Linked DNA regions of Homo sapiens. The protein of the gene in region 7 interacts with the protein of the main gene of each other region in a pairwise test. Each region holds a gene or a part of one and is shown on either strand. Other genes may lie near its edges. The genes, in order: XRN1, RAD52, PAXIP1, RITA1, UPF1, NBDY and DCP1A.

Region 1 (2,964 bases), about 89 Mb from region 7:
GGTCAATGGGAGATGTGCCCTCCCTATGGAGGATGTAAGAAGCAGAGGCCATTTCTGCCCCATGTTGAGGAAACAATCTGTTGATAGACCTGGAATTTAGAGTATATCTGAAAAGCAGTTGGACTTCAAGAAATTTAAAATTCTCTCTTTGAGATGGGGTGGACTAAGACCACCCCCAAAGTTTAAAAATATGCTCATTCAACTTGAATCTTCTGAGGACTTTTTGTGAAAATGGTGGACTGTTTAGGGCATAGGACAGATTCCCCAAATTGCTTTATGCTTCCACATAACTAGAGCACTTCAATCTATTTAAGCCTTTGTCTCCTAACTGAAACATTATTTCTAAATATTTCTATTCAATAAGTTTTTTCTTTTTTGAGCAACTTAAGTGAATTTTGAAGATTGCTCCTTCCAGTCTCGTTCCTTTTCACATTTTCCTGCATTACCTAATAATTACCTCAGCGTTAGAATTTGAATGTATTAATTGATTTAAACATCATGTAGACTAAAGTCTTAAACATCTAAGACTCAGTTGTAGTTGCAGAAAAAAATTAAAGTCACCTCTACTGAACCTTGGTTTCAATTTAAGATTTTTCTTGCTTTTCAAAGGGGTAACTAATAAAGATTGAAGGGTTTTTTTCCCGATTGGTGGAGGAATGAAGAACTATTGATGCAAGTTTTTTTATTGTTTCTTTCTATGATCAGGTACCTGCTTTCATTTTAGACTGCTACTTCCAAACTAAGCTAGATTCTTGGTTTTAATGAGAGGAGGCAGAGAGAGGGAGGCAGATGGAAGAAGAAAAACAGTTAAATAAGACATACCCAGTCACTGCATTTTTGGACTATACCGTATCTTTCTAGCACAAGGAAATAGATAAACTGTAAGGTCTTTTTTACTCACTTTTTATTTATGTGTTCTATTTGTGTTAGTCATAACTGTTTATAGTGGTTGTCTAATTTTTACTTTTATTATATGAGATAGAGCTGTGCAGATCTTCACTCAAGTTAGTTCTGTCACGCTTCTTCCCATTATTTAGAGCACAGTTTTTTAAAGCAACTGTACAATTTCTCAGCCTTATGAGCTTGCTGTATTTCTTGGTATCATGTTGCTTCCAAATTTTGTTTTTACTGTAGAAGACAATTAATTTATTGTAGAGAAGTGGCTGTGAAAGTCGTTCTCTGTCTTTAAAAATCAATTGCAGAAGTTCATTTGTCATTTTTCTAGAGATAAATTATAGTACTCAAACTGGCAGTGCTCAGTATATACATTTTGTAAGCTTTGTCAGTGAAACCATCAGTTTTGCAGGAGCTTCCTTTCCTAGTCAAGATAAAGCTTAAAATTCCAGAAATTAATGTCGTTCGGACTGACTTTATTCATATTTCCATCAAACTTCTCCAATACAGTAAGAGATAGTGTTGAACCAGCATCAAGTCTCCAGAAACATGGCAGAGCAGACAGGCCGTTAAGTTTCACAGACATCATAGATCCTTTTCTTAAAGAAGAAAAACATGTATAAAATAGTTTTAGTAGTCCAAAATGTCAACTATCTGTAGCTGCTTTTGTGTGTGTGTCAGTGAACAAATAATAATGCCTTGCTCAATCAATGCATTCAGCCATCTCAAGTGCAATTTGTGAAGGAGACTATGGTTTCCAAAAGATACATTTTTTTACAAAGTTAAACCTGTAAAAAGTCTTTTTTTTTTTCCCTCCAGCCGTACACCAACTGCACTTGGTTGTTTCAGCAGTTGGTATACTATTAAATTGTCCAGGCCAAATAGGTTTCTGTAGCTGTTTTAGTAATTTGAAGCCAAATTCTCATGCTGTTTCTCATTAAAAAGAATGAGAATTTGGTCCATAGTTAGCTTTAAGTTCTCTCTTCCTTTCTTTCCCTTACAGTTAAGGGTTTGGTGGGGGATGGGGAGGTTGTTTTCGTTTTTTGGATTTTTTTGTCTTTTGGCTTTAAGTATCATATTTTCTTTTGCCTGTATCCAACTGCTTCTTTGAGTATTTTCATCTAGTTTAATGTGAGTAATAGATGCTGTGCTGTCATTGAAGTGTTCAACATTTTGTTCATTTAAACAAAAGTGTAATTCATACATATATAGATACATATCTTAATTGATTTCTCAACTATTTTATAAGTAACTGGAATTTTTCATTAGATCTTATACAGAGAAGTATTTTATTAAAAATTCAAAAGGGAAGACTTTTATGTGCTCATTTTGTAATTTTTGATTTTAAATATCTTTACATTGTCTGCCAATTAAAGTGTTTTAAACTTGCATTGGAATGGACTCCGAATGTATTTTTGTGGTGTTACGTTATCCGTAGATTTCTAGCATGAAGTTAGCCTCACGATGCTGTGCAAAGGATTTTAAAATATGAGAGTCACTGAAAGAGTTTAAACATCTGTTCATGTTAAATGCTCTATGGATTTTAATTAAAGACTTGAGAATGATTTTATAAGCTGTTTGTTCTTTTATTACTATGCTGATATCAAAAGTAGAAACATTAGTCTTTTTGTTTGTTTGTTTTTGAGACAGAATCTTGCTCTGTCGCCCAGGCTGGAGATCTCGGCTCCCTGCAGCCTTCACCTCCCAGGTTCAAGCGATTCTCTTGCCTCAGCCTCCTGAGTACCTGGGACTACAGGCACATGCCACCATGCCTGGCCAATTTTTTAATTTTTTTTATTTCCATAGGTTATTGGGGAACAGGTGGTGTTTGGTTACATGAATAAGTTATTTAGTGGTGATTTGTGAGATTTTGGTTCACCCATCACCTGAGCAGTATACACTGCACACAATTTGTAGTCTTTTATCCCTTGGCCCCTTCCCACACTTTCCCTCTGACCCCCAAAATCCATTGTGTCATTCTTATGCGTTTGCATCCTCATAGCTTAGCTCCCACTTATGAGTGAGAACATACAATGTTTGGTTTTTCATTCCTGGGTTACTTCACTTAGA
Region 2 (3,500 bases), on a different chromosome or scaffold from region 7:
AAGAAATTGACGTTTTTCTACTTATGGGTAATTAGAAGCTTGTAGTATTTTCAGTCTTCTAAGTATGTTGAAGATATGAGACGTTGGTGATTTTCTTTGTTTCTCCGGTTGGTTGGTCTGTGTAGTTTTTGGACATGTGTTTGGATATTTGGATTTATATAGCTGCCATAATCTTGGCTATGCAGGTAGTCTTTCCTGACACTTCATCCTGAAAGATTTGAAGCCTTTGGACAAATTTTACAGTGGGCTGGGTGCAGTGGCTCACGTCTGTAATCCCAGTGCTTTGGGAGGCTGGGCAGGAAGATTGCTTGAGCCCAGGAGTTTGAGACCAGCCTGGACAACATAGTGAGACCCGTGTCTCTACAAAAAATAAAAAATATGCCGTGTGTGGCGTTATACAACTGTAGTCCCAGCTACTTAGGAGGCTGAGGTGGGAAGATCACGAGCCAAGGAGTTTGAGGGTACGGTGAGCCATGATCGCCTCACTGCACTGGGTGGCACAGCGAGACTGTCTCAAAAAAAAAATTTACAATTAATGTCTGCATATCCTTCACCTAGGTTCATAAATTTGTACTTTTGCTTTATCTACTTGCCTTTTTCTCTCTCTCTACACACACACACACACACACACACACACACACAATTAGTTGAATGAATTGAGAGTAAGTTGCAGAAAACATGACACTTTACTCCAATATTGCATCATACAAAATCATACATCTAGTGATAGGCCATTGTCCTACAGAATCACGATATAATTATCACACTAACCAGCTGTGGTGGTGCACACCTGTAGTCTAAGCTACTCGGGAGGCTGAGGCAGAAGGATCACCTGAGCCCAGGAGGTTGTGGCTGCAGTCTCATATTCATCCCATCATCAGATTTCTCCCATTGTCCTAATAATATTCTTTATAGCTTTTCTTTATCCCTGATCCGAAATTTCATTGAAGATCACACAGTGCATTTAGTTGTCATGCCTCTTAAGTCTTTATTTATTTATTATTTATTTTTTGAGATGGAGTCTTGCTCTGTTACCCAAACTGGAGTGCAGTGGCATGATCTTGGCTCATGCAACCTCCACCCGCTGGGTTCAAGTGATTATCCTGCTTCAGCCTCCCGTGTTGCTGGGACTACAGGTGTGTGCCACCATGCCCAGCTACTTTTTATATTTTTAGTAGAGACGGGAATTGTACCATGTTGGCCAGGCTGGTCTTGAACTCCTGAGCTCAGATGATCCACCCGCCTTGGCCTCCCAAAGTGCTGGGATTACAGGCGTGGGCCACCACACCCAGCCTTAAGCCTCTTTTAACATAAAAGAGTTCACCAGCCATTCTATTTTGTTTTGCTTTTTGAGACACTGATGCTTTGGAGAGTCCAGGCCAGTTGCTTTGTAGATTTCAACTTGTTTGATTGTTTCCTGATGATTAGGTTGGTAGAAATACTACCTCAATGATGGGACCTTCTTAGTGCGTCCATCAGGAAGCACATGATGTGACTGTAATTGGTGACATTAAGTTTGATTCCTTAATAATTAAGGTGGTAACTCCCAGGTTTCTACATTGTAAAGGCATCTTTTGCCGCCCTCCTTTTTATTCCCAAGTAGTTTATTTGGAGATTAGTCCTTTACACAGTAGAGGAGCGGGGAAGGGAGACAGGAAAGGAAAGTTTGACAACAAAGGGTGAGTTTTCAAGCCTGTTGCCACGGGGGAACCTAATTCCACTGGAGAAGCTCATGGCTTGGTGATGTTCCACAGAGGGGTCAGAAATTTAGCGTATTTCAACACCAGCTCCTGTCAGGCACCATTTGAGGGCTGCTGCCAGGGTGGTTCAATTTTCTGGTGCTTACAGCTTGCCATAAACAGGTGCAAAGTAGTCTGGATACCAAAGAAAGCTCTCAGGTAACAAGATGCAGATGTTGGCATTTGGAAGTCAGAATAGGGTGCACTATTGTGGTAAGAGCTGAAGGGATGGCTGGGCGCGGTGGCTCACACCTGTAGTCCCAGCACTTTGGGAGGATGAGGCAGGCGGATCACCTGAGGTCAGAAGTTCGAGAGCAGCCTGGCCAACATGACGAAACCCCGTCTCTACTAAAAATACAAAAATTAGCCAGGCGTGGTGGTGGATGCCTGTAATCCCAGCTATTCAGTAGGCTGAGGCAGGAGAATTGCTTGAATCTGGGAGGTGTAGGTTGCAGTGAGCTGAGATCACACCACTCTGCACTCCAGCCTGGGTGACAGAGCGAGACTCTGTCTCAGAAAAAAAAAAAAGCTGAAGGGATGCTGAGTAGAGCATCCGTAGTGTCTGCTATACCTGGGTACCCTAGAACCTGGAGAACCTACAGCTTGAGGCAAGAGCGTATGTGCTATTATTTTTTCAAGAAGTGTGCTCTCAGGAAGCAGAGGTAGGGGAAAGGTGAGTGAAGGGAGAAGGAAGATTAAGTCAGTTCAAGGGTGCATTTTGAAGTTGGTTGCCCTTGGTGCAAGTACAGTTGGTTGCTTGTTCTCCTAAAGCTGTCTCCCAGGAGGATGTATACATAACTGCATTCCAGGGCAATCCATCTAAAGGAAGGGTGGACGGACCCCTCAGCTTCTGTATCTCACTGGAAAAAGGTTTGCTTCATGGCACATTAATTCCCATAGACTTCTAGGTTGTGCATGTGTGGGTACCAGGTGGGTCCCACAGACCCTTACACCTCCAAGGCAAGCAGCAAGCCACGGGTGGGAAGTGATAGGTACCCAGTATGAGCAGGAGGTAAGGGACCGTGGGGTTGTGCCTGTGGGCAGTTGGTTATAACCCAGACGTGTTTGATCAGCCCAGTGACAGCTGGAGTGGACAAAGTGACCAAGGGCCTCAAGGACACACAAGGCCAAGAAGATTTGAAGTGCTGTGTAAGATATGCCTAATGCATTTGGATTCTACCTTTGTTTAACGAATATGCACACATAAAAAACACTTGAACTCCTTGAGCCCAGGAGTTCAAGACCAACCTGGGCAACATAGTGAGACACTCATCTCTAAAAAAATTTTAAAAAAAATTAACCTGGCATGATAGCACTCACCTGTAGTCCTGTCTACTCTGGAGGCCGCAGTGGGAGGATCACCTGAGCCCTGGAGGTCAAGGTTACAGTATGCTATGATTGCACCACTGCATTCCAGCCTGGGTAACAGAGCAAGACGCTGTCTCTTAAATTTTTTTTTTTTTTTTTTTTACTTTTATAATGGAAAAACCATTGTAGACAGTTTTAGGAAGGAAAGCAGAATAGTAAGACATCTTTTTCAAAGTAAAAGAGCAAAAAAGGCAAAAAATATTTCACATTTACTTTATGGACAAAGATAAGATTGTCCTTCAATAAAAGACTGAATTTTTTTTGTTTGTTTTGTTTTGTTTTTTGAGAAAGAGTCTTGCTCCATTGCCCAGGCTGGAATGCAGTGGTGTGGTCTCGGCTCACTGCAACCTCCGCCTCCCGGGTACAAGCAATTCTCCAGCCTCAGCCCCCCGA
Region 3 (3,500 bases), on a different chromosome or scaffold from region 7:
TTCTTTGAATAACTTATTTCTCATAGATGTATTTATTAAATTTGTGTACTTATTTTTAAACATTATAGTAAAGAAAAGTTCTCTAGAGATGTGCTGTGGTTCACAGGAGGAAGACCTCCAGTGGCAATGTCCAAGAAGGAAGCCAAGAGGTAAATGGGATGCAGGGTGAGCCCAGCTCCCCTGGAGGCGCACTTCCCACCAAATCACCTGGTAGTTCCCTTGAGCAGGTCCGTGTGTTATGCTTACTTGGACTGATTTACTTTTCCCTTAAAGTGTACCTTAAAGAGTGGAGAAACGTGTGCCCGTTTTAAGGATTCTTCCAAGCTGAAAGAGAAAAGTACTTCTGCCTCAGCATCTCGGAGAATGTAGTTCTGCTCATCTGGAAAACAGAACAGCACATACTCTGAAAAGTGTGGACACGTGAAGTGTGGCAAGTGTGACCCACAAAATTCTCGCCCATATTCAGGTACATAATATTACAGCTACATTTACCTGTACAGCCTTCGGATATTTAAATGTCACCATTATATTTCATTTACTTCCCTCTAAAAACAGCCAGACCAAAAAGACAGACAGGTATTTTTTCTCCTAGATCAGTGGTAATTAACCATTTGGGGTCATAAACTCTTGAAAAAAACGGGCTGGGTGTGGTGGTTCATGCCTGTAATTCCAGCACTTTGGGAAGCCGGGGAAGGAAAGCTGCTTGATGCCAGGAGTTCGAGAACAGCCTGGGCAACACAGTGAGACTTCATCTCTACAGAAAAATTTTAAAATCAGCTTGGCATGGTGGCATGTGCCTGTAGTCCCAGCTACTCGGGGGACTGAAGTGGGAGGATCGCTTGAGTCTGGGAAGTTCGAGGCTGTGGTGAGCCATCATTGCACCACAGCACCCCAGCCTGGGCAACAAAGTGAGATCTGGTCTCAAAATAATAGTAATTTTTTTTTTTTTAACAACAAAAATGTAAAAAAAGAAAAAAAAAATTACTGAAAAATATGAACCCTCTTCCCATAGCTGCTCCTCCCCTCTTTACCCCCCGACTATTTTAGGAAGTTCACCAACTTTCCAAGCCCGCAGATCTCAGGTTAAAATCTCCAGTCCTAGAAAGACAAGCTTCAAATAATCCCATCCAAGTGTATATTATATATATATATGTTATATATATACACTAACTCCTCAAGGACTTGTAGGACATTGGAGTCATTTGGCTCATAATCAATTATGTGAATTACCAAACTTTAAAGATTTACCAAACACACATTCAAGTATATAAAAGTATACAGCAATTTATAAAGGATAGTTTTATCAATTTTTAAAGACTTCTGACAATTATTAATAATTGACAGATTTTCAGTTTTCATAGCAACATTTTAAGAAATGTGTCAAAAGGTAAAGATCACAAAATGTTTCAATCTTCCTATAAATATGCCTCATATTCAGAAAACCATTTCTCCTCCGCCGCCATTTCCTACCAACCATACAGCATAATAAGGCAGCTCAAACCCAATAATATATACATCAAAAGCAGAAAACAAGGAAAAGTGATTTGGGATTGGCAAACTGGGGTTGACAAGATGATACATATTTTAGGATTTGTGGGCTATGTATTATTTCTCCTGCATATTCCTCTTCTCTTTTTTAAGCAATATTTAAAAAATGTAAAAACCATTTTCAGCGTATGGACCAGTTTGCTGACTGCTGGGCAGGAGCAACCACATCATGACAGAAATGCAGGGATCTGTTCACCAACGGCCAGAAATACAAAATCAATCCCTGAGTCAACCAGCAGATAGAAAGGCTGCTTTTTAGGTGAAAGGAGAAAAAGAATGTCTAAAATTTGGAAAAACAAAAAATGATGAATTAAAAAAGGAACAAAAAAAGTACTGTTACACATGAGATGGTATATTTGAAGTGTTACTTTCAAAGCTGATATGCCTTCTGAAGAACTTGTGTGAGATCACCAAGAATAGTTAATGTTTATGATAGAGAAAACACCACCGGGCGCGGTGGCTCACGCCTATAATCCCAGCACTTTGGGAGGCCGAGGTGGGCGGATCTCTTGAGGTCAGGAGTTCAAGACCAGCCTGGCCAACATGGTGAAACCCTGTCTCTACTAAAAAATACAAAAAAATTTAGCCAGGCGTCGTCGTGGTGGGCGCCTGCAGTCCCAGCTACTAGGGAGGCTGAGGCAGGAGAATGGCTTGAACCCAGGAGGCAGAGGTTGTAGTAAGCCAATGGCACCACTCTACTCCAGCCTGAGCAACAGACTGGGTGAGACTCTGTCTTAAAAAGAAAAGAAAGTAATATTGAAAAATACAGTAATACAGCTAAGACGATCCTGTCACAGATGAGACATTGAGATTTTGGTTTTTTCAAACAGGGTTATGTTACCTTAGTAGTAGCAATGTAAAGACTCAACCTGAACATTAAACTTTTCATGGAAGTACAAAAGAAATGAGTATCCTAGAAATTGATTATAATATTGATGTCTCAAATTTTATGTAAGTTACACATAAATATAAAATCCCAAAAACATGCACCTACCAAAACAGGTGGAGAAAAGAGTGTTTTCAACAAATGATGCTGGAACAACTGCACATCCATATGCAATAAAAGGAAGCTGGACACAGACTTTACCCTCTTTTAAAAAAAACTGACCCAAAAATGGAACACAGACCTAAATGTAAAATGCAAAACTATGAAACTCCTAGAAGATAACACAGGAGAGAATCTAAGGGACCTTGAGTTTGGCAATGACTTTTTAGATACAACACCAAAGACACAATCCATGAAAGAAATAAGAAGTAACCTGGACCTCACCTATTAGAATGGCCAAAACCCAGAGCACTAACACCAGCATATGCTGAGGAGGATGTGGAGCAACAGGAGCTCCCATTCACTGCAGGTGGGAATGCAAAATGGCACAGGCACTTCAGAAGACAGCCTGGCGGTTTCTTACAAAGCTAAACATACTCTTACCATATGATCAAGCAATTGCAACCTTGTTGATTTACCAAAAGGAGTTGAAAACTTACGTCCACACTAAAACCTGTACATGGATGTTTTAGCAGCTTTACTGCTAACTGCGAAAATTTAGAATCAGCTAAGATGTCCTTGTGTAGGTGAGGGGCTGAACAGATACATTCTGACAATGGAATATTATTTAGTGCTAAAAAGAAATGCTTTATGAAGCCATGAAAAGACATGGAGGAAGCTGGGACGTATATTGCTAAGCAAAGGAAGCAAATCTGAAAATCCTATATACTGTATGATTCCCAATATGTAACATTCTGGAAAGGGCAAGACTATAGAAAGAATAAAAGATCAGTGGTTGCCAGGGGTCAGCAGGCAGGAAGGAATGAGTGGGTGGAGCACAGAGGATTTTCAGGGCAGTGGAACAACTCCATATGACGCTGTAAAGCAAAATCATGTCCTTACACATTTGTTAAAACCCAATGACTGTTCAAGGCCAAGAGTGAGCCCTAATGTAACTATGGACTTT
Region 4 (4,148 bases), on a different chromosome or scaffold from region 7:
GGCAAGGAGAGGCCCAGAGCCCAGCCCACACTGCCCAATCTGGGTGCAATTCCATCTGCGCAAAGGCTTTGTTGCTTTTCCTAAGTCCTGGGCTGCATCCTAAGTGCTCTGCAGACACACATGTCACTGTCTGGCTTTCTTGGACCCTCCACTTGGCAAAGTCCTAGCCATTGTGTTTTATTTCCCACCTTAACACACACACACACACACACACACACACACAAACAAACTTAAAAACAAAACTAAAAAAATACTATTGTCTGTACTCTGAGCTAAGGAAGAGCCGGCCAACCACAAGTTAGTGGCATTAGCCAGAAGCCGACGGGAGGAAGAGTCCAGCGCTTCCCGAAGCCCCAGATTCCCAAACTTCAGTTACCCACTCACCGCTGTCATGTTGCCTGCCACATCCTTGTACTATCTGTTGTATTTAACTTTGTTATTTAAATCAACTCAGGCCTAACAATGGCCTTTACCCTGAGGGGGAAAAAAAGTGACATTCATGGCTTTGATGAGCTGATCTATTTAGTACATGAAAATAAATTCAGAAGCATATTAAGATGAAACAGTGTTCACTCACAAATCTCCCAGTTGCCGTTGTGTTCCCCAGGCTTCACAGACAGCCTGGAAAAACTCCTCTAGGGCTTGCAGACTTAGCTGGAAACTAATCCTGAGCAGGAAGCTTGGCTTGAAGGGATAAGAGGGGACCCTCCAGGTTGGCAATCACGCCGTTTATTCGCACTTGGCAGCAAGACAATGGATGATGTGGGAGGTGCCAGGCCCCTGGGTTGGCACTAATTTGGAGTATGGTTGAGACAGGGCTGGAGAGAGGCATCTTAGAGGTGGCCCCCAAATCCGCAATCGGGAGAAAAAGGCAAGAATCGACTAGAGATTGTCAGGATAAAGGGAGGCACTGCCCACCCCTGCTATGTCTGTCTGCCCCCACAGGGGCTTCTTTAATACCTGGGGTTCCCTGGGTGATGAATGTCCTCCTACCCTGGCAAGGGGCCATACCTGTCGCCGTGGCCCCATAGGCAACCCTGATGAAAGAGTATCATTTCCAAGGGGGCTTTGGTTTCTGGGTGGCCCCACCTCGTCGTGGGGTAGATGGCACTGAAATGCTAACTGAGCGAGCCCTGGAAGTCACCAGGGGGCTCCGGAAGGTCACCCCTGACGTGGAAGGCCTGAGATCCTGAGGCCCATTTGTGTGGGGGGCACTGGTGGCTGGATGACCAGTGCTGGGGACATTCAGGTGGGTGAGGGAATGGGAAAGTCCCCGCTTCAGGGGGCGTGAAGAGTGTAACCCACCCATAGATAACTTCTGGGAGTCTGCCGCTGGCCCCGGCTCTGTCTTGGAGGGACCAGCTGGGTGAATGGCTCGCAGTGGTGCCTCCCTGGGGCGGGGCGAGTGGCTACCCCTGGGGGTAGGTGGTGGCGTCCACAAGAGAGCACGGAGCTTTGCGGCATCCCCCTTCGCCATCCGCGGGGCCCCGAAGCTGGCGCCTTCAGATCGGGAGCCAAACAGCGACTCATCACAGTAAGACGGGGTGTGGCTGATGGGTCTGGCAAATGGAAGATAAACGCCATGAGCTGGGGGATGAACAACCCCTCAAAACTTTAACAGCTCTCCCACCCACCCTGGGATGGCAGCAGCAGAGGAGGGTTGCCTGCAGATCCCAGGAGTCCTTGTCTCCCAGTCTGAAACCTACAGCGAGGCCACAGCCTCTTAAGCACCACTGCCCCCGGTCTCTGCTGATTTTCCCTGCGAAACATCCACTGCCCCTGCATCCTGACCCCATTCCCAGACATGTGCCCCAGGCCTGGACAATTTGCATATTCCATCCTCCTGGCCACATGGATTGGTTCACGAATGGCCAGATGACCCAAGCCTGTCCAATCAGAATCTGCCTTAGGACCTTGCAGAAACCACTAGGAAAGAGATGTCTTTCTGCCACCTGACTTTACTTCTTGCTAAGCTGATAGGATGTCAGCCCAAAGCAGCTTGTGGCTATCTCCTTCCTACTGAAGATTGAAGGGCATGCAGGGAAAAGCAGCACTAAGGTGGAGACAGACAGTTCCAGCCACAGTTTGAGCCCCTGTTACAGGAGCCCCACATGCCTTCTCCTGGGGAAGCCAGTTTGAATAAGTTTTCTGTCACTTGCAATTGAGAGTCACAATTAGTATAACCTTAGTCTTTATAGCCTCCACTTTTTCTTTTCTTTGTGAGACACGATCTCACTCTGTTGTTCAAGTGGAGTGTAGTGGCACAGTCACAGATCACAGCAGCCTCAAATTCCTGGGCCCAAGCAATCCTCTCACCTCAGCCTCCCTAATAGCTGGGACTACAGGCACAGTGCCACCAAGCCCAGCTAATTTTTTTGTTTTTGATTTTTAGTAGAGATCAGATTTATGTTGCTCAGGCTGGTCTTGAGTTCCTGAACTCAAGCAGCCCCCTGCCTTAACCTCTCAAAGTGTTAGGATTGCAGGAGTAAGCCACCGTGCCCATTTTCTTTTCTTTCTTTCTTTTTCTTTTTTTTTCTGAGACAGAGTCTCGCTCTGTCACCCAGGCTGGAGTGCAGTGGTGCAATCTCAGCTCACTGCAACCTCCGCCTCCTGGGTTCAAGCGATTCTCCTGCCTCAGCCTCCTGAGTAGGCGGGATTACAGGCATGTGCTACCATGCCCAGCTAATTTTTGTATTTTTAGTAGAGACGGGGGGGGTTTCACCATGTTGGCCAGGCTGGTCTTCAATTCCTGACCTCATGATCTACCCACCTCGGCCTCCCAAAGTGCTGGGATTACAGGCAAGAGTCACTGCGCCCGGCCTTTTTTTTTTTTTTTTTTAAGAGACAGGGTCTCACTCTGTCACCCAGGCTGGAGTGCAGTGACGCTCGCTGCAGCTGCGAACTCCTGAGCTCAAGTAATCCTCCCACTTCAGCCTCCAGAGTAGCTGGGACTACAGGTATGCACCACTATGCCCTGCTAATATTTTTATTTTTTGTAGAGACAGGGATCTCACTATGTTGCCCAGGCTGGTCTCAAACTCTGGAGCTCAAGCGATCCTCCCACCTCAGCCTCCCAAAGTGCTGGGACTACAGGCCTGAGTCAGCCTGTCTGGCCTTTTTTTTTTTTTTTTTTTTTATTCAACAGATATTCACGGCATACCTGCAAGATTCCACGCCCATAGTTTTTTTGGCCAGGACTGAAAGTGCTTCTATCCCCAAACTGCAAGTCTTTGAAAGGGCAAGCTTTTGCCACTTGGTTTAGCTGCTCAAACCACATTGGCTAATGCCTGTATATGTCTGGTGCCAAGGTTTTTGCTCAATAACTTCTCTACCTCTTATGCAACCCCTCACTTGACACCCTCTACCTGTTGGCATCCAGAAGAAAATTCCACCCTCCAGGTGAGCAAGGAGTTGTCACCTCCCTTTTCATGGACACCATACTTCCTAATGCAGCCTATCTTTACCTCAGTGTTTTCAGCCATGTTGTAGGTATCAGTGTTGCTAATCTCCACCTGACCCTGCCTTGTCTACAGAACTGGCAATAACTGATTCTTGTTTTTATAATAGGTATCATTCCCATTCTCATTTCATTTCTCTCATCTGAAATATGTCCCTGTGGTTCAGAATGAACCCTAACTTTAGCTGGCCAGTTCTTATGGACTGAATTGTGCCCACCCAAATTCATATGTTGAAGCCCTAACCCCAAATGTCTCTACACTTGGCCTTAATTATTTAGATTAATTAAAGGTAATTAAGGCTGGCCAGACATGGTGGCTCACATCTGTAATTCCAGCACTTTGGAAAGCAGAGGCGGGAGAACGACTTGAGCTCAGGAGTTTGAGACCAGCCTGGCCAACACAGTGAAACCCCGTCTCTACTAAAAATACAAAAATTAGCCAGGCATGGTGGCGTGCACCTGTAATGCCAGCTACTCGGGAGGCTGAGGCAGGAGAATTCCTTGAACCCGGAGGTGGAGGCTGCAGTGATCCGAGATGGTGCCACTGCACTCCAGCCTGGGCGACAGAGCCAGACTCCATCTCAAAAAAAAAAAAAAAAAAAAAAAAAAAAAAAAAAAAAAAAAGGTAACTAAGGCTAAATAACATTATAAGGGTAGGGGATCCTAATCCAATAGAACTGGTGTCCTTATG
Region 5 (3,500 bases), on a different chromosome or scaffold from region 7:
GTGGACCAGCTAACGGAGAAGATCCACCAGACGGGGCTAAAGGTCGTGCGCCTCTGCGCCAAGAGCCGTGAGGCCATCGACTCCCCGGTGTCTTTTCTGGCCCTGCACAACCAGATCAGGAACATGGACAGGTGTGTGTCGAGTCCATCCCTCCCAGTTGGTCCCTGAGCTTCTGCGGGTGACATGTACAGAACTCAGGCACCCTGCTGACCTGCATGTGCTTCCAGCATGCCTGAGCTGCAGAAGCTGCAGCAGCTGAAAGACGAGACTGGGGAGCTGTCGTCTGCCGACGAGAAGCGGTACCGGGCCTTGAAGCGCACCGCAGAGAGAGAGCTGCTGATGGTGAGTGCCCCTCCTGCCTGCAAAAGGGCCTGTGGGCTGGCGGCCTGATGGTTTTTGTTTGGGCCAAAGCACCTATTTGAATTGTTGCTTTGCTTCTGGAAAGAGAACTTAGATGCTCTCTACTTGGCCTCTCTGCGCTCAGTTGTACAGTAAATTAGGGACATCTCGCTGCCTGGAACACGGTCTTCTAGGGAGTCTCCACTCCCTGCCAGCCTCCACTGGGATCCGGCAGTGGATCTAGAACACTCCTGCTCTTTCATAACCAACCAGCCTGAACTGGAATCAGCCTGAGTGCAGGTTCCAGCAGCTCAGCACTGCCCCTTGGAGGCTGTCGTGAGGCGCAGAGCTCTTGGTGTGGAGAGGTTGCCTTCTGTGAAACATGACCGTTTAAGGATCTTAAAAGTTTGTAATCACCACAGCCTGGACCATGTATCTTGTCTGGGAGGGACAGCTTGTTTTTTATAGTGTCAGGGAGGGTGAGAAACAGGAGAGCTTCTGTGTTCTGTCCCACCTGCCCTCCGGGGTCTGGTGGCGTTTACAGTGCAGGTGCCCTGATGCCTCTGCACCCTTCCCCAGAACGCAGATGTCATCTGCTGCACATGTGTGGGCGCCGGTGACCCGAGGCTGGCCAAGATGCAGTTCCGCTCCATTTTAATCGACGAAAGCACCCAGGCCACCGAGCCGGAGTGCATGGTTCCCGTGGTCCTCGGGGCCAAGCAGGTGGGCTGCCTCCCCTGCCCTCCTGTGTGAAAACTCGTGTGTGTGATTCTTGGTGTTTGTCTTTTAAAACACCTTGTATTGACGTAGGATGCCCAGCAGAGTGTGCGCACACTGGGGGCTCCCTGAGGGGTTTATAGAGGGTGGGTTCTGCCAGCTGCACGTCCAGTGTGCGTGGTGAGCAATGCCCCTGTGGCCAGGTGGTGTCCTGTGCATCCTGGGGCCCCTACTTCCTTGCTAGTGTGTGTTGAGGCTGATTCACACCTGAGCTTCTTGACTTGTGGGGGCCCCTGTTCCTACAGCTGATCCTTGTAGGCGACCACTGCCAGCTGGGCCCAGTGGTGATGTGCAAGAAGGCGGCCAAGGCCGGGCTGTCACAGTCGCTCTTCGAGCGCCTGGTGGTGCTGGGCATCCGGCCCATCCGCCTGCAGGTCCAGTACCGGATGCACCCTGCACTCAGCGCCTTCCCATCCAACATCTTCTACGAGGGCTCCCTCCAGAATGGTGTCACTGCAGGTAACGGGGCTCTGCCCAGGGCAGGGGCTTCTACAGAGAAGCGGCATCAAGGGAATGTGGACTGGGGAGAAGGAACTGGCCCATCAGCTTCCCCTGAGCGGCTTCACATAGCCACTGCTTGAGGTCAGGGCACTTTGTGCCCAAGGTCTTGATGGTATGGTCTTGGATCAAGTGGTGTCTCTGGGGCATGTGGGGAGCCTGTGTCCTCTGTAAAACTCAGTCATTGCCTGAGAATTCATCCAAGCCTCATGTGGCAGCATGCACAGCAGCCAGGACAGGCTGTTAGGGGAGCTGAGCCCGGGCCTTAACGTGGGCTGTGCATTCAGTGCTTCATGAAGAACAGCTGTTCTCAGGGCCTGGGCCCCTGGGGCCCGCAAGACCGTGTCCGGCTTCCCTGGATAACACAGAGGCCTCACCTGCCCTTTTTCACTCTGCTGACGCTCACACTGCTGGTGACCCCCTGGTGCTTCTGCAAGAGTCAGCCCAGAGCAGCCAGACTGTGCCCGGATCACAGTAAGAAACGCCCTGGATGAGGAAGTGAACAGTACATCTTACTAAGCCTCGAGTGTTTCACTGTGACCAGATAAAATTTCTCGTGACACCTTTGGGTATGCCGGCGCTTGAAGGAAGTCCTTGTGGACACACCCTGGGTATTCACCCCAAGGTGTTGGGCAGACTTTTTCCAAAAATGATCGAACCTGTCGCTTCATGGAGAACTAGTGGCAACATCTGTTACAGTAGTAAAATTCAAGTGAAAACCAGAATTTTGGAAAACTTAACGTCGCTTGCCATGAGCTTGGTGTCTTCCCAACACCTAGAGACTTTTCTGGTGAGGTCTGTGGGGGTGACAGATGGAATGTTTCCACCATTGCCAGTGAAATGTGTCAGCCTTTGGAAGACCTACTTGACTCGGTGGGAGATCCTTCCTGAATGACCAGCAGAGTGTCACGAAGTCACATGGGGATGGAGTGGCAAAGAGTTGTCACAGGCCTGCAGAAACCCACCTTTGTCCAGCTTGATGTGGCCTCAGGGCTGGAGACTCCCAGCCATGCAGAAAGGCTGTAAAAACAAACCCATCTCCCTTTCCAGCCTCAGGCATCCATGAGGCCTGGCTTCCCCACAGCGTCCCCAGAGCCCAGGAGGGTGGACTGAGCAGAGGTGGACCCCAGGGCCCAGCTGCCTCCGATTCAGCCAGATAGTAAGGAGATTTGCAGAAATGGGAGACAGGACCACTCTTCTTACTTAGCTTATTTTTGGAGAAATAACTAACACGTAATGGGTTATTTTTAAATGAATTAATATATTTTTTAAATTTCCAAGTTTAGAGAATACAGTTATCCAATAAACAAAAGCTGTTTGGACTCCCTAACTTTTGAGAGTGTAAAGGGTCCTGAAAGCTGCCGACACAGCGCCTCATGAACTCCAAACCTGTGAGGTTGGTATTGTCAGGCCTAGTTACAGGAGAAAGTGAGGCTCAGAGCCCACCCCCCGGGTTGGGCCACACCACTCTTTGCCTAGCGGTAGGTCTTGGGAGTTGATGCCACTATTGACATCGCAGGGACACCGCTGTTCCCAGCGCATGGCAAGGCTGAAAACACAAGGCCACAGAGACCTAGCTTGTGCTCTGGGGTGTCTGAGCACTGGCTGGGAAAGGCGTGGCTCGGCGCAGGCTCAGACCCCTCATGGTCCCCAGGGCATCGGCCCAGAGGGCAGACGCTGGTGCACACTGCTCTCTAATTGATGCACAGCACGTAGTTCACACCCAGGAAGTACATTTTAGGAAATTCTCTATTGAAGTGTAAACATGTGGCCACATTACAAGTGTCTGGCTCAATGAGTGGTTACTAAGTGAGCATATTTGGATAGCCAGCACCTGAACCCAGAACCACCTGACCAGCTGTGAGAAGCCGCCTCATCCCTGCAGG
Region 6 (4,119 bases), on a different chromosome or scaffold from region 7:
TTGTTTTATTATTTAGCGGTAATTACTGTTTATTTTATTTTATTATTTTGTTTTATTTTTTGAGATGGCGTCTTGCCCTGTTGCTTAGGCTGGAGTGTGCATTGGTGCAATTTTGGCTCACTGCAACCTCTGCCTCCCAGGTTCAAGCTATCCTCCCACCTCAGCCTCCTGAGTAGCTAAGATTACAGGCATACACCACCACACCCTGCTAATTTTTTTTGTGTGTGTATTTTTAGTAAAGATGGGGTTTCATCATGTTGGCCAGGCTGGTGTCAAACTCCTGACCTCAAGTGATCCCCCTGCCTCAGCCTCCCAAAGTGCTGGGATTACAGGATGAGCCACCATGCCTGGTCTTATATATTTTAGATACAAGTCATTTATGAGACATATTATTTGCAAAAATAATCTTGCACTGTGGCTGTCTTTCAAATTTCTTGACTGTGTTCACTGAAGCAAATTTTTTTTCAATTTTAATTATGTCCAGTTTATCTTTTTTTTCCTTTATTAACTTGTGCTTTGGTGTAAGAATTAAAAATCTAATACTTAATTCAAGGTCACAAAAATTTATTCTATATTTCCTCCCAAGAGTTTTATAGTGTAACCCTTATATTTGAGTCTTTGGCCTATTTTGAGTTAATTTTTGTATTTTGCATGAGGTAGGGGTGGAAGTTTTTTGTTTTTTTGTTTTTTTTTTGCATGTAGATACCAAGTTGTCCCAGTACCATTTATTGAAAATAGTTATTTCCCCTTTTGTCTTGCCTCCTTCTCAGAAGTTAATTGGCTGCAAATTAACTTTTGTGAGGGCTTATGTCTGGACTTTGGATTCTATTTCATTGATCAATATTTATATCCTATGCCAGTACCACATAGACTTGTTTATTGTAGCTTTGTAATAAGTTTTAAAATTTGGAAATGTGACTCTTCAAACTTTGTATACTTCAAGATTGTTTTGGCTATTCTGGGTCCATTACATTTTCATATGAACTTTAGAATCAGGTTATAAATTTCTTCAAAGTAGGCAACCTTAATTTTGATAAGGGTTGCATTGAATAGTTTGATTATTTTGAAGAGTGTTGTCATCTTTATAATACTGTGCCTTCTGATGCATAAAATGCCTTTCACCAGATGTCCTTTTAAAGAAGTCTGTGTTTACTGTTTGTGATGTTCAGCCTGGCTCAGAAGTTTTAAAACTCTAATGTGTGATTAGTAATATTATACAATCTTTAAAATAACTGTCTATAATTTATTAAGTGTGCATAACATAACTCTAGAATATACATAAATGTCACCATACCTCCATTTGTGATTTTTCAGATTCTTTAATTCTGATGCTAGGGACTAATTTCAGAGGATTGGGTAAAATACTCAGGTTTCACAATCTCTCTAAATATTCATTTTACAATGTAAGCTTTAATTACTTATTTGAACAAATTGTATTATTATTTTATATTTTAATTTATAAGCCAAGTTTATCTGACATTTTCAGATATAATATATGCTTTCAAGTCTGTTTATCTTTTATTATTACAATTCAAAGGTAGAAGCTTTATTTTTTTATATCCCTGGAAATTATTATAGTCTATAAATTTTTTTCTATAACCTTGTAATTCCTGAAACATTTATGAACTATATGAAATATTGAAAGCTGCTATCTAATGTTTTCCCATTTTACTTGTATTTTTTCACCATAATATTTATTACTGTTTTTAATTAGGATATTCTATTTGTTCAATACTAAGCATTTTAGAAGGAAAGTAGAAAATTACAAAAAACAAGCACATCAACCATTTCAGTCAGAAAAAAATAGTTAAGATGTAAAATACTAGGATGAGGATTAGCATAAAAAGATGTAGATTCCATGCAAAAACTGACAGCAAATTAAAGAAAGTGTACTGGAAACAATTCTTTTTTGGATTTAACCTTCCTCTACTTTCCTTATATTTTTCACTAAAATAAATGAATAAATAGACATAAATAAATGAATAAATGTAGGAAGAAGGTCATATTTCAACACTAATTTTAGTAATGCTTTACATAGGAGTTCTTATAAAATATTTACTTAAAATTCACAATTTACTAGATGTAGTCATATAGATCTAACACAGCGCTTAGAGACAAACTTTATTGGGGCCTTAATGGATTTATAGGAATATAAAGTTATACAACAAGAACAGGATGTCACCAAAAGAGTTCACTGGTTGGCTGCTGCAGGACCATCTCACAGGCATTGTTTGCTTTGGTAAGTTCACCATGATCCAGGGCATGGCCTTAAATCTCAGAGGTCTTACAACCCGATCTTGCCCATGTCTTAGAATTCATCGAAATTCAGGAAGTGAAATCGCGCTGATTACATCATAAGACTGAAAGATACAGAAAGAACAAAAGTTTATTGACTTATAATGAGAAATTCCATTATCATACAGGTCAGATATGTCTGTTGAGCAGAAAACACCCCAATTTCCCTATTAAGCAAGTTAAAGAGAATGCAAAATTATTAGATGAGTGCTTAATAAATATTAAATCAAAGGCATACAATGTCAATAACCTGCATCTTTTTGGTATCTAATGTATTTGAATGCAAAATAATTTATCTGTTAGGTGGACCAGATGTTTCTATTATCTTAGGCATATTTCTCCCCCAAAAAGTACAGGGATGTCTACCGCTATTACTCTTGTTTTATTAGGCTTCCAAAACTAATCAATCAGCCTCATTGTTCCCTCATAGCCCCTTGACAAACTCCTATATTCCTTGGAAATTTTATATTTATTTATTTATTTACACAAATAATACATGAATAAATACATGAATACAATCTAACTGTATATAATTCAAACAACATAGACATAATTCTTCTTACTGCTAAACTTTTACCATTCCTCAGTCTTTCTCCTATTTACAGAAGAAAACATAGTTATCAATTCTGTCTAGACCTTTTTATTTCTATTTAAATGTACACATATATAGTATTTATAATAATATAATAATTTAGATTTGGAGTTTATAATATAAATTAGATCATCCTAGCATACACTTCGGCAATTTGTTTTTATTCACTTATAAATGTCTTAATAATTTTTAATATAAAAATAGATCAGTCTCAATATTTCAATGGCTTCAAAATATTGCATCGTGTTACAGTATAATTTTAACTGTTGAAAGATGTTCAAATTCTGTTGAAAGATATTTAATATGCTTGCAACATTTTTACTACAAGCAAGCCAATTTATTGATATGTAGAATTATTTCCATATATTCTACAAATAAAACACAAGTCAAAACTTACAAACATTAAAATTACGATAGAGATAAAATACTTTAGAAACGTACAATTTTATAGACAGTAGATATTTAACCAAATCCTTTCTAAAACTGAGAATTCTGGAGACTTTTTTGATTGTGGCAAATATGATGACCTAATATTAAAGTCAACTATATTTATTATTATTATTGGCCATATATTTTTGTCTCCTATGAATTGCCTGTTCTTTGACTATATTTCTATCAGGCTTTGTTTCTGTATTAACATAAAGAAATGTATTATATATTCTATGAATTAATGGCATCCATTATCTATCTTTTAAATGGAACCACATTGTATATAAATAGTCTTTAAGTTTACTTATGCTGTTTTTCTTCGTATAAAATTTGCATGTTTTATAAAAGAAAATTATATTTAGAAATATAATACGAAGGCATTAAAATGAGGAAAACAACATGAAATGTATAAAAGAGAAGATTAACAATTTCTTCCAGAAAAACAATTCTAAATCTGTGGAGGTTAAAAGATGTTAAAAGTATGGAATAAATGCCTAATAATTTTTTCCATAACCAATCAAAGACACATATACTTACCAACATGTAACTCTTTCTGTTTGTTGTTACAAAAAATGAGTTTGTATTATACACATTACTCCGAACATGTTTTATTTATTTAATAATATCTCATAGTAACCACATAAACTTAAATATTTTAAAAATATCTGCACAAAATTCCAGCAAATGTGTCCACCAAAACATAGTAATTCTCAAAATGAACATAACTGAGACAGTTTCCAATTGTTTTCACAAATATGCAAACATATTCTCAGATGGTATAATAAAAAAGTTAAACAATTTGT
Region 7 (3,500 bases):
ATAGTCAGTAAGGCAAAGCCCAGAATAGAATTCTTATCTGCAAACTAAATTCCATGCCAAAAGAATGTTACCATGGCAAAGCCACCCTCAGGGATATATTCTGCAGCTTTTGTATCTAGAAATCATTTGTAAGTTTCAAAAAGGAATGACTAAATAGGACGCATAAAAATCTAAGCCAAAGCTTCCCAAGTAGTTGTTTGATTCAGGTATGGCACAACAAAGAGCATGTTAGCACATGAGCTCATGCTGAGACTTCCACTGTCCAGTATGGCAGCTGCCAGCACATACAGCCATGTAAATTCTAATATATTAAATTAAATAAACTAAAAAGAAGTGTTCTTCATTTGCCCTAGCCACATTGCAGGCTACTATATGGGACAGTGCTGACACGGAACTATCATTTTCCCTAATTGCAAAGTTTTAGTGGATAGCACTACTCTAGAATATGGATTGATGAAGTAATTTTATTGTTACAGTAGAGTGGAAAGAACATTGGCCTTGAAGCCCGAAAGACCTACTCCCAAATTCTCCATCTGTCACTTATTACCTTTGCGAATCTCGAGCAGATTCCTAAACAGCTCTGAGCCTCTTGTTTTCTCAACCTGTAAGTTGAGGATCAGAAATAAGGTGCTAGAAATACCACTGCTACTCAATAACTCCAGAATTTATAACCTCCCCATAATTCATTGCAATCCCACTGGGGTCTTGTGACTGCCAAAAGGCCCTTGCACAGAATAAAAATACACTGTTCCCAAAAGATTCAAGAGGCTGGACATGGTGGCCCATGCTAGCACTTCGGGAGGCTGAGGCGGGAGAATTGCTTGAGCCCAGGAGTTCAAGACCAGCCTGGGCAACACAGTGAGACCTTGTCTTTTGAAAACAACCACCACCACCACCACCACTACCCCACAAAGATTTAAGAGAATCACCAAGCCTAAGCCCTTAGTCAGTGTAAGAATTTTCTCTTTAAGATTTTATCTTTTTCTTGAGGGGTGGGGTGGGTGTAGATGGGCATGTTTTATAAAGAAAAACTCTTGGCTGGGCGCGGTGGCTCACTCCTGTAATCCCAGCACTTTGGAAGGCCAAGGCAGGTGGATCACGAGGTCAGGAGATCGAGACCATCCTAGCTAACACGGTGAAACCCCGTCTCTACTAAAAATAGAAAAAATTAGCCGGGCGTGGTGGTGGGCGCCTGTAGTCCCAGCTACTCGGGAGGCTGAGGCAGGAGAATGGCGTGAACCTGGGAGGCAGAGCTTGCAGTGAGCCAAGATCATGCCACTGCACTCCAGCCTGGGTGACAGAGCAAGGCTCCGTCTCAAAAAAAAAAAAAAAGAAAAACTCTTAAAAATAAATAAAACAAATAACTTAGAACTGAAAAAAAGTTATGGTTCACTGTTCTAGTACATTAACTCCAAAAATTAATTTGAATGAAAGAAGTTGGATATGAAGGTGTCACTTGAGTTAAATGGGTCAGGTGTCTTGATGGTATTTCCCACAAGAGAATGGCAGAAGTGCAGCTATAGAATCAGGTATAATTACCTGTATGCATAATCAGATACTAACTTTTTATTTAAAGAACAAATCCCTAAACAACTTAATAGCTCGCTGACCTGACAAGACTATTTTCCACTTTTAAGACTATGTAGACAAAACACACACTCGAGAGGGCTTAACACTCACAAAATCATTTTCTGTTGTCTTATCACTTCTCCCCAATACAGCTATTCCTTTAAATACTTTCCCTAATGAAATGACCTGGTTAAGTGAGTTTTCTGTTCAACTAAGAAAACTTTTGTTTCAATCAGTTGAAAATTTTCTAAAGTAAAATGCATTAATGCACTTTCTCCCCAAGAATGTTCTAGTTAACATAATAAATACTCCTGATGATTTTAGGTCTCACTATAACAATTTAACCTATGATACTACAGTGGAGTTAAAGTTATAAAATATTGACATTTTAATGCCGACCCCAGGTTATTCTCTGGATATCTGCTTGATTTTCAGAAAATAAAACCTAGTATTAGCTTGTTTTCTTATAATTTGCCTTCATTTCTTCCACACACGAACTATAAAAATATTTCCAGACAACTGAAGCTCTAATTAGTTAGCTTCTGGTTACTCATGGTTCAATTACATTTGTGTTATGTCACACTTTCAATTTCACAGGACTTTTGCCTTGTGAAAAAAATATAATACAATTCATCTCAGGTTTATGCTAAATGGTAACTGGGTCCGGATAACTTTCCCTACTGACTACTTTAATAATCAAACCACTTAGGAGTGATGGCTAGATTAAGTTTCCAGGCAGTAAAGAACAGAATTAAGCCTATTTCACTTAAAAAAAAATTGGATCCATATTCATTTGCAGAATTTCTCCCACCCTCTTTTCATTTTTTGAGTCAGGGTCTCGCTTGTTGCCCAGGCTGGAGTGCAGTGGCGCAATCATGGCTCACTGCAGCCTGGACAGCCTCCTGGGTTCAAGCGACTTTCCCACCTCAGCCTCCTGGGTAGCTGGGACTACAAGTGTGTGACACCACACCTGGCTAATTTTTCTATTTTTTTGTGGAGTGGGGGTTTTGACATGTTGCCCAGGCTGGTCTCAAACTCCTGGGCTCAAGCAATCTGCTTGCCTCGGTCTCCCAAAATCGTGGGATTGCAGGTGTTGAGCCACTTTGCCCAGCCGAATTTTCCCTTTAATGGAATATTCAGTACAAAGAAAAGAGCAATCTGAAATAATTACATTGTTAACATTAGTTTAAATAAATCCATCTGAACTTACAGCTATTACAAAGCATGTCTAATATGTCCACAGAATTTAAAATCTGAGAGGTAATTACCTGGACAAATAGTTTACTGAGAAGTCAAAAGATAGAACCTATTTCACTTATACTTCAAAGTGTGCTACGGAAAAGAACTTGGGGGTTTCTAGCTTTAAAATAGGCCTTGTTACTTCTCATTCAGGGAATTAAGAGGTGTATAATTTTTAGTAACTTTTTCTATTTTATACTGAAGACATCCCCCAAGACCAATTACCCCCCCGCCAAGTGAAATTCAAACACATTAACTTTTACTTTTTAAGTTAGAAGCAACATTTCTCCAACTATATCCTTAGATGCCAATTAGAGCACAATCATTGTTACCATAACCAGTTTTCATATCCCTATAGTCAATGTCCAACAAACTGTCCTCAAACACCCATACCTTCAATATCCATACTAATACACTGGAATCAAGTATATTTTTTAGTACTGTAGTTTCTTGGAAGGGCCACTCTAGCTTTGCTGACTACATCCAATCGTTATTAGAGATTGTAAAAATGCCTGAAAGAACCCTGGACTAAAAAGCAGAAGAATAGTCATAATCCTAACTCTCCAACAGGGTAATAGTTATGCATCTCTGAGTCTCAGTTGACTTAACTGCCTGCTTACACCACATAGGTAACTGTATCGTTAACATTAAAGCACCACAGCTCTTGGCTCAGTGCTGGTAACCAGTAGACA

The links.
Region 1: the proteins of DCP1A (region 7) and XRN1 interact in a two-hybrid assay, tested with the Homo sapiens proteins (one large-scale study listed by BioGRID).
Region 2: the proteins of DCP1A (region 7) and RAD52 interact in binary tests that used the Homo sapiens proteins (3 or more experiments, as listed by UniProt).
Region 3: the proteins of DCP1A (region 7) and PAXIP1 interact in a two-hybrid assay, tested with the Homo sapiens proteins (one large-scale study listed by BioGRID).
Region 4: the proteins of DCP1A (region 7) and RITA1 interact in binary tests that used the Homo sapiens proteins (3 or more experiments, as listed by UniProt).
Region 5: the proteins of DCP1A (region 7) and UPF1 interact in binary tests that used the Homo sapiens proteins (3 or more experiments, as listed by UniProt).
Region 6: the proteins of DCP1A (region 7) and NBDY interact in binary tests that used the Homo sapiens proteins (3 or more experiments, as listed by UniProt).

Annotation. Positions count from the first base shown.
Region 1 is NC_000003.12:142,306,110-142,309,073, reverse strand, and holds the end of XRN1 (5'-3' exoribonuclease 1), read left to right. Parts: 3' UTR 1-2,464; downstream 2,465-2,964. UniProt on the Homo sapiens protein: Major 5'-3' exoribonuclease involved in mRNA decay. Required for the 5'-3'-processing of the G4 tetraplex-containing DNA and RNA substrates. The kinetic of hydrolysis is faster for G4 RNA tetraplex than for G4 DNA tetraplex and monomeric RNA tetraplex.
Region 2 is NC_000012.12:936,195-939,694, reverse strand, and holds part of RAD52 (DNA repair protein RAD52 homolog), read left to right. Parts: intron 1-2,243; exon of another isoform or gene 2,244-2,609; intron 2,610-2,812; exon of another isoform or gene 2,813-2,888; intron 2,889-3,500. UniProt on the Homo sapiens protein: Involved in double-stranded break repair. Plays a central role in genetic recombination and DNA repair by promoting the annealing of complementary single-stranded DNA and by stimulation of the RAD51 recombinase.
Region 3 is NC_000007.14:154,947,625-154,951,124, forward strand, and holds part of PAXIP1 (PAX-interacting protein 1), read right to left. Parts: intron 1,867-3,500; exon of another isoform or gene 1,674-1,866; intron 467-1,673; exon of another isoform or gene 380-466; coding exon 279-379; exon of another isoform or gene 274-278; intron 150-273; exon of another isoform or gene 69-149; intron 1-68.
Region 4 is NC_000012.12:113,188,721-113,192,868, reverse strand, and holds the end of RITA1 (RBPJ-interacting and tubulin-associated protein 1), read right to left. Parts: intron 1,560-4,148; coding exon 1,052-1,559; 3' UTR 501-1,051; downstream 1-500. UniProt on the Homo sapiens protein: Tubulin-binding protein that acts as a negative regulator of Notch signaling pathway.
Region 5 is NC_000019.10:18,855,959-18,859,458, forward strand, and holds part of UPF1 (regulator of nonsense transcripts 1), read left to right. Parts: coding exon 1-131; intron 132-227; coding exon 228-342; intron 343-918; coding exon 919-1,062; intron 1,063-1,361; coding exon 1,362-1,575; intron 1,576-3,500. UniProt on the Homo sapiens protein: RNA-dependent helicase required for nonsense-mediated decay (NMD) of aberrant mRNAs containing premature stop codons and modulates the expression level of normal mRNAs.
Region 6 is NC_000023.11:56,815,561-56,819,679, reverse strand, and holds the end of NBDY (negative regulator of P-body association), read right to left. Parts: intron 2,361-4,119; 3' UTR 501-2,360; downstream 1-500. UniProt on the Homo sapiens protein: Promotes dispersal of P-body components and is likely to play a role in the mRNA decapping process.
Region 7 is NC_000003.12:53,337,544-53,341,043, forward strand, and holds part of DCP1A (mRNA-decapping enzyme 1A), read right to left. Parts: intron 603-3,500; coding exon of another isoform or gene 548-602; intron 1-547. UniProt on the Homo sapiens protein: Necessary for the degradation of mRNAs, both in normal mRNA turnover and in nonsense-mediated mRNA decay. Removes the 7-methyl guanine cap structure from mRNA molecules, yielding a 5'-phosphorylated mRNA fragment and 7m-GDP.